Linked DNA regions of Homo sapiens: region 1 is linked to region 2. Evidence: fine-mapped expression QTL. A gene starts in region 2. The other region holds a variant in brackets. All regions are shown on one strand. Distances are from middle to middle. Region 1 overlaps PAH (phenylalanine hydroxylase). Region 2 holds the start of PAH (phenylalanine hydroxylase).

Evidence for each region. PIP is the estimated chance that this variant, and not a neighbour inherited with it, causes the effect.
Region 1: its variant is the best candidate, but not a certain one, in a credible set for the expression of PAH in prefrontal cortex (CommonMind, PIP 0.88).

Annotation. Positions count from the first base shown.
Region 1 is chr12:102,869,243-102,873,638 of GRCh38, forward strand. All of the region lies in intron 4 of PAH (phenylalanine hydroxylase), which reads right to left. All of the region lies in intron 1 of LOC124902999 (a long non-coding RNA gene), which reads left to right. Among named protein-coding and RNA genes, the nearest start is that of PAH, 46 kb to the right of the region's middle. The variant G/T (reference allele first, on the strand shown) is at 2,269.
Region 2 is chr12:102,914,989-102,919,319 of GRCh38, forward strand. PAH (phenylalanine hydroxylase) reads right to left here and starts at 2,256. Exons shown (of 13, transcript NM_000277.3): 1 at 2,083-2,256. The coding sequence starts at 2,142.

The DNA of each region.
Region 1 (4,396 bases), 46 kb before region 2:
TTCTACTTGTGAAAATAAAAGCTAATGTAATACTGTATACCCAGTTGATATTATCAATTATGTCAATTATGTCATATATCAATTATGTCAGAGGAAATATGTAAGTATATAAATAAAATGATTAAAGAAATACACCAAACTCTAACAAGTGTTACCTCCAGGTAGTGGGAAAAATAAGTAACACTAACAGTTGTATTCTTGAAAACTATTTATGCTTTTCAAGTTTTCTAATGTGAGAACGGGTTTCTTTTAGAATAAAAAAAAGAAAATAGTATTAAATATCCATCTCAAATCATTTTAGTGAAGTAGCAGGAGATTCACACATTGGTATACAGGAACACACACACAGATAATGCACTATACAGATCTTCCATGTGGGAAGGTTTCTAACCATGACCCTTTCCAGCTCCTGGTTTCTAAGTTCATTATCAGCCTGCAAGGGGCCCCAACCAACCAGGTTGCAGGGAGTTTTGCTTTCTCAGTTACCAGTGGTCAGAGAGCTCTGTGGCCTGACGCCCAGCCTCTTGGGGATCTGGCCTTGCATTCCTTGGGCTACCAGACGACCACAGGGCCTCTGTAGCCGTCCATGTGGAGTACATTCTGAATCAAATCACAGTTGGTGATGACTGATCACCCTGTCTCAATTTAGACTAATAGCAGCAATTTCAGTAGCACTGCATGTAATTTATTTATAATCACCCTGTCTCAATTAAACTAATAGCAGCAATTTTAGTTGCACTGCATGTAACCAAGTATGTTTTGACAGGAAAATATATTGTTGGTGAAGGAGTGGTGAGGGGGAGGGGAGGGGATAGAAGACGGGAGAAAGTCGAGAGAGTTCTACAGGATGCAAGTCATGACATCAACTGAAGTCTGCATGTATTGAGAGGTATAATTTGTGTGTGTGGGTGGGTTTAGGGGAGAGGGTAACTACATATATGGAAAAGTCTTGAGTATTCTTGTAGACTGAGATATTTATTCCATCATTTCCTAATATCATAGCTAAGGTTAAACCTCAGAAGTGCTCTCTTTAGGCTAGTGAGAACACAGGTTTTAAAGTCAGAAAAGCTGTGTTGGAATACTAATTCATTTATTCACAAGGAGCATGGCCTGGGAGTGGCCAGTTTATCTCTCAGAGCCTTAGTTTCCTCATCAGTAAAATAAGACTGTCAATCCTACCTGCTTCACAGTGTTGTACAGTTTAAGTCAGGTAATGTCGGCAGCACATTAAGCAAAATTCTGAGCACATTGTAGTTGCTCAAAGCATGATGCATTTGTGCAAAATGGCAGGAAATCCAAAGACAGAGAAGTCTGGCTCAGAATATAAAAAAGATGTACTCTGGAATGGGTCAGTGATCCCCACCAGCCACAAGGGGCTTTTAAACCAACATCTACAGAATTCTTACCTTGCTGTGTATATTTCAGCTAGGCCAATAACAAGAGGCTTTTTGCATTTTTCATAATGTTTCATGACAACTGGGGGAAGGATGGAACACAGAAGACAAAAGGTTCAAACTGGCATTTATTAAGTAGCTGCCATTCCCATCCTATAGACATTGGTCAAGGAGGACTTGCAAACAGTAGACTAGGGGAGCACCGACCATGCCCAATCCCTTTGCTCACCCTACAATTGGCCAAGAAGCCTATTCTGGAAAAATGTATGTACCTAGTTGCCCAAGCCCATAAGCCAGGAGTTATTGTTTTACTTCCCCCTTCTCTCTTCCTTCACATCCAGCAATCAATTTCTGCCCATTCTACCATTCAAACATCTGAGTCTGTCCTTCCTACTTCATTCTCACTGCTGCACCTGCATTCGACCACCACCATTTCTTGCCTGACTATTGTAGCTGCTGGGTAAGTGGCCTCTCACCCCCTCCACTTCATCCCAAATTATATTTATAAAGTGCAAGTCTGGTGAGGCCACTTGCCTCTTCAAAAGCCCTTCAAGGGCTTCTCATTGCTATTAGACTATTGTCCAAAATATTTAGCACAGTCCACAAGGCTTTACATGATCCAGCTCTGTCTATGTGTCCAGCCCTGTGCTGACTCACTCTGGCCTTCCTATGATGCTGCAGAGTGCACTGGTCTTGCTTTAATTCCTTAAACACACCATGCTCTTTCCCACATCAAGGCCTTCACACGTGTTCTACCCTCTGAGTGGGACCCTCTTCCCCACTCGTTTAGACCAATAAGTCACTATCTGTTCTTTCTGTCTTCCTGGATTTTTCCAAAGTTTATTGGTTTCTCTCAGTGTGTTGTATGTTTCTC[G/T]TTTCAGATGGTCTCACATATGTTAATAATGATTAAACTCAGGAAACTCTTTTACATATCACTGGATTTTCAGGGCATAGCACACTCAGCATATCCCCAAGTAGAAGCTGTTCAAAAATTATGCAAAACAGGCCAGGTGCAGTGGCTCATGCCTGTAATCCCAGCACTTTGGGAGTCCAAGGTGGGCAGATCGCCTGAGGTCAGGAGTTCAAGACCAGCCTGGCCCACATAGTGAAATCCTGTCTCTGCTAAAAATACAAAATTAGTCAGGCGTGGTGGCGCATGCCTGTAATCCCAGCTACTCGGGAGGCTGAGGCAGGAGAACTGCTTGAACCTGGGAGGCAGAGGTTGCAGTGAGCTGAGATCATGCCATTGCACTCCAGCCTGGGTGACAAGAGCAAAACTCTGCCTCAAAAAAAAAAAAAAAAAAAAAAAAAAAATATATATATATATATATATATATATATATATATATTTGCAAAACCTAGGGCAAAAAAATTACTGTGTGCCTTTTAAATGTCATATGAGATCATTGTCTCACAAGCTCACTCTGTGCTCTAAGGGGACATATATTTACTACTTATAAAGTTACAATCACTTCAAAGTAGATGCTGGCTTTTTAGAAGACCAATAAGTTGCAAAATATTCATTTTATTATCAAATTGTAAGTTGTTTCTGCCTAGTAGAAAGGTTAAGACACATAATTATGGCTTTATTGTCTTATGGAACATTAATCACTTGTGCATCCATCTTTGTGACCTTATTCTGGCTTTCTATTTTCCGATGACCACGTGTACTTTCGTCTCTTGTATCTTTTCTGCACTATCTTTGTCATCTTGCTGGTTCCCTCAATAGTGAGTTAAATGGATCTTTGACAGGTGTTCACTATATACCTGCATGACAGTTATGTTTTTAACTTTTCACAAATTATGCTTGGATAGAGCAATTTAGTAAGAATGCAACAAGTCTTTGATGACTCAACTAGCTGACTGACTCTTAGAAGGAACTCTGACAGGGCCTCAGGTGGAGAAAATTAGGTGGGCAAAAGGAAGAGAAAAGGAGAAAAGTATTGAAAAATATAGTCTTGTTATTGGGCAATTTGCTGAAGAAGAAATTTCCTACAGGAGAGCAGGAAAACTTGATGCCCACACCTTGAAAGGTTAAAAACAGTTTCAGGCCTGGTGTGGTGGCTCATGCCCATAATCCCAGCATTTTGGGAGGCTGAGGCGAGCGGATCACCTGAGATCAGGAGTTTGAGACCAGCTTGGCCAACATGACGAAACCCCATCTCTACTAAAAATACAAAAATTAGCTGGGTGTGGTGGCACACACCTGTAATCCCAGCTATGTGGGAGGCTGAGGCAGGAGAATCACTTGAACCCAGGAGGTGGAGGTTGCAGTGAGCTGAGATTGCACCATTGTACTCCAGCCTGGGCAGCAAGAGTGAAACTCCATTAAAAAAAACCATGTAGTTTCAAAGACTTGGGTCAAGAAGTAGAAATATCCACAGAAGGACAGTTGTGTTGGCTGATATTTTCTTCACTAAGAAGCCCCCTCTATTGTAGATCTGTAGCCTAGACTCCAGTGCAGCTGCCAGGTAAACTGGAATAGGTAGCTCTGGAGTTGGGGGTCTATGTGGCAGAGGTTGCTGGTGCTCCCCAAGATCTGTCCTCTCTCCTTTGTTCAGAGAACGTTGCTAAACTATTTTCCCCCATCTTCTTTGCAGTTAGTAGTGGGCACGTGACTGAGCTCTACTCAATGGAATTTGATTGAAGGGATGTGAGTCATCTCCAGACATGGCCCATGAAAACTTCCCAGAAGCAATTCTCACTCTCTCTTCTCCCATCCACTGGCAGAATGAGTGGGCTCCAAGGAGTTGAAGGAGGGTACAGCCATTGGTGGAAGGAGGCTTGGTTCTGAAAGACTTTGTGGAGCAGTTTCCTTACTGACCCACATTGGAAGTGAACTTTTATTGGGTTGGCCACGGAGATCTGGGGGTTTTTGCTGAGCAGTTAGCCTGCTCTGGTTGCTAGAGGGCTAGACTCAGATCTTCCTCTTTCTAGAAGTCCTCCCTAACCATTCCAGTACACAGTGACCTTAGAAATGATAGCACATGCTATCTGACTCA
Region 2 (4,331 bases):
AATCCCTCAAACGCTCCATCCCCATGGCTTCTTGCTGATGTTTGGCAGTTTCTGTGGTACCGAATCTCTGGAGGCCCACCTACAGGAACCTCCTTTCCAGCCAAGCTGCTTTCTTTCTTGCCTTTTTAGCTCCTCATTAGAGTATTCACCAAATTTCCCTTTCCAAGATCTCACCTTCCTTAAAGGCTCTTTTGGGTCTCAATTCTCTTAGGAAATGTTTGTTCCCCTCAGCCCAGGTGCACAATCACTTCTTTATCTATGCTTTCCACTTGGCATTTGATGCCCACATGGTATTTCATAATAATTGACTCACAGAAATTGATTTGTCCTTAGTGCTCATCTAGTTAAACTCCCTTACATTACAGATGGGGAAAACTTAGAGCCAAAGGGAGAAAATAACTCACCTGAGGCCACATAGGTAGTGGAGGCTGGTCAAGAACTCAGGCTCCTAATTATCAATTTTTCTACATAATTCCCTTTGCTATGGACATAATATGGGAATTTAGTCCTGTTTCTTGCAAAGTAAAAGATTTACTCTGGTCCAGTCACCAGACAGTTAGTCAATAGCACTCCTAACAGCCTATATTTCACCATGCTGATCCCCCTTCACTTGCTCCATTTCTCTCCATGCACTTTGTAAATCAGTGTTTCTCAATGAGTGTTCCTTGGATCTTGACTCCAAAATTACAGGTGATTCCTTCTTATAATGCAGTTCCCTGGGCTTTACCTAAACCTGTTGAATCAAGTTGTCTTAGAATCTGCCATTTCAAAACCATCCCAGGTGATTCTTAACCATAGAAAATTTTGGAACCATTGATATATATACAGCCTATTTTTTTAATTATAACTTTTCCCTAAATGTGTCTGCAAATTCACATTTACTATATAACACGACACTACTTTGTTTGTTATTAATATAATTTGTGGATTCTCAATCTTCTAAGTGCTCTATAAAGAACTTTAAACCCCTATGCTTTCCTGATGAGATCCCTGCCCCTAACCCCTTCCCACAGTTGTGGGGACCGTATTGCCAGCAGCACCAAAACTATGTGCAGGATGGAGCCAGGACCTGTTCTGGGATCACTCTGACTCTCACGCTGTTCCTCTGTACAATAAGTTCTGTCTCCTAAGAGCCATGTACTATTTTCATAAGAAATTTTTTTTTTTAAGGATTCAAATAAAAATCAGTCCTAAGTTCTGCAGTCTTTCTAGTTATATTAACGTTAACATTAACCATTCTTTTCTCTCCAGCCTCCCTGTTTTCTACTGAGAACTCTTCTCCCTAATCCTACTGATGACAGGGGCCTGCAGACTTACATTATTTCCCTGGCCTGGGCTTTATGACTGAATCTCAAGAGTCCAGGAGCAGACTTCCTCCCATGGGTAAATATGTAGGTCACATTAAAGAATGTATTCTGCAATTCTTCACCTCAAGAAAATGCCAACAAATCCCGGAGAATGGAATATACCTTGGGCATTATTTCCAAGTCACGTTTAGGGTTCTTTCACATTCCATGCCCAGGGCTAACTCTTGGTCATTTTCCTCTCTGCTTAGTTTCTGCCTCCCCTGGTCTGAGTAAGTTTCTGTCTGAATTCTCTTCATGCCTCATCTTCTTCCCAAAATGAAAGGAGGATAGTTACTCACAATTTTGCCATTTTGATACCTTGCTGAGAGCACTTTATAAATATTACAAAAGAAATCTAGAAGGATTCCACATCCCATCCCAGATCATTAGGGACCAGCCCCTTCAGTGTACAGAAGAGTAAACAGACAACAGAGAGGGACAGTAACTTGTCCAAAGACACACAGCTAATTGGTGGCAGTTCTGGAGGCCAGATCCCCAACCCCCTAAAGCAATGGTCATTCATTCCTGTGAAAGCCACCGAGGACAGATGTTCTCCTACTTAGAAACAATTGTTGAGGACATTTGTCTGTTGACTTCCTGGATATTCTCATCAGCTTCCAACGAATTCAGACTTCTTACTGAGCTTATGAAACCAGGAAGCACCAGCAGTCTTCGGATCTCTTTCTCTGGAGGCCCAAATTCCCCTAACTGAGCAGCTCAGGCTGCCGTGGCTCACCTGTCCAAAGTCAGAGAGTTTCCTGCCCAAGCCTGGGTTTTCCAGGACCGCAGTGGACATGCTGGCTCCCCGGGAGTGAGGTCTCTGGCTTTTTAGGGCCTCAGGTACAGGCAGGTTTGCAAACAGCACGTGGGGCTGAAGGTTTTAACCTCGCACTAGGGAGGAGAAGAGAGTTACAAAGGGTGTCTCTTGCGTGGTGCATCTCCGCACAGTAACGCCCCTCGTGGGCGTTGTCCTGACGCAGGAGGCCAGGGCAGCCTGCCGGATGCTCCAGGTCACCTGCCCAGGACGGGCCGGAGGGGAGGGGCTGAGGGAGGGTGTGGGGGACGCAGGAGGCACCACTTCGCTGCCCGCCCTGGGTAAAGGGAAGAAGCCAGGGAGCGACGGGCCACCCAAGCCCCGTCGATTAGACAGGTTTAGGCACTTCCGGGACTCTCAGAAGCCTGGGAAGCGAGTTCTCTGCAATTGGACTAAGCCTGCGACCGTCTGGTATAACAATTATATGAATAATCCGCCCCCCTTACCCCCAGCTGAAACAGTCAGGATTCTCATTTAGATTTTTGTTGTTGTTGTTTTCCCTTCTGTTAACCTCTAAGCACACTGCCTTGCTGTGCGCTGACTTCAGAAAACTACAGCTAGAGGGCACGTGAACGCTGAGCACAGCAGGTAAAGAGCAAATGTAAGAGCGATCTGGGTTTAAATCCAGCCTGGTGTTCTCCAGCTATTCGCACAACTGCTCCTGAAGCTCGGAAAAGAGGGTGGTAGAGCCACCTTGCTGGAAGGTTTTAAGAATAGGAATAAAGAAATGCATTAAAATTTAGTACAGTTCTTCCACATAAACACTCAGTAAATGGAAGATATTGTTTAAAAGCAAATCCACATAAATTTGACAATAATTACTGAGACCTGTACCGTGTGCTTGGTGGTGTTCTAGTCTTTGGGAATACAGCAATGAACAAAACAGACTCTGCCTCCCCAGCTATGCTGCCATTCTGGTGGGCAGAAAATAAACATATAAATAAGTTTAGGTAGGGCTAAGTCTTTTGAAGAAAGTAAAGTAGGGGGATGGTCTATGAGTGAGCTGGTGGGATTTGGCCAGTGGTCTTCAAATAGTCAGGAAGATGCCATTAACCACACTTTTAGAGAAGACTGAGGGTGAGGCATTACTGACCAGGAGGTAAAACAAAGTATAAAAGAATGCTGGAAAGCAGGTTCAGAGGTTCAGAAAGGATGTGAAAACTCAGGGGCCTCAAGCCTTGAGTGCCTGCTTAATATTTTCCCAAGAGAAAGTAATGGGCTGTAAGAAAATAAGCCAATAATAAAGGTTGCTGGAAGCCCATCCCTCTCCTCCCACTGTTCTTTGACCAAGCATCTGAAAATAAATAAACAAATAAATAAATAAATAAGTAAAATAAAACTCAGGTTTAGGATTCAAAACAAGTGGTTTAACTCTTGGTTCTACCACTGATTTGGTCAAGCCCATGCCTCAGTTTTTTTTTGTTTTTTTTTTTTGTTTTGTTTTTGTCTTTAAAATGAGAATTTTAAGGGATATTTAGGATTCCTTAAGCCTTTATGATGTGCCAGGCTGTCTACTGTCTGCTAAGAATACAGATATAACAAGTGCAATTTCTGTCCAAAAGGAACCTTTAGGGGCCTGATGAATATTTCCCATAGTAAGTTGGAAGCTCAATGTTGTTAAATATTGAAGGCGAAGATCTTGATTTCCATCCTCAGGAGAATCTGTATTCTTTATCTGACTCCGGCATTTTTCAGTGTAGTAGACATAAAACATGTTGTATTCCTCAGCCTCAGGATTTTCTTACAAACATAATTTCATCCCTTGATGCTACTTGAGGGCAATGAATGTGACAACTCCAAAAATATTACAGGCATGCAATAAAGAAAAGCAAAGAATATTATCTACTTATTTGCATGCACACTCTGTCTTAGACACTGTGCCACGCTCTCCACGTGCATGGTTTCACTTCTTCCTCTTAACAATCCCATGAACTATGCACTCCCTTTTAATAGGCAAGAAACTGAGGCCTAGGAAGTTTAAACAAATGGCCCAAATTCAATCTATGTTTCACCCAACACCAAGGCACTGCACTGGCTCTCAAATACTTTTGCTTTCCTGTTTGAAATGAGGACAACATAATTTTTAGGACAACAAAATGATAGCTTTTCTTTCTTCTCCCCATAACAGCTGAAAATGCAACTCTTTTTTCTAATGTTTAATTTTTGTGGGA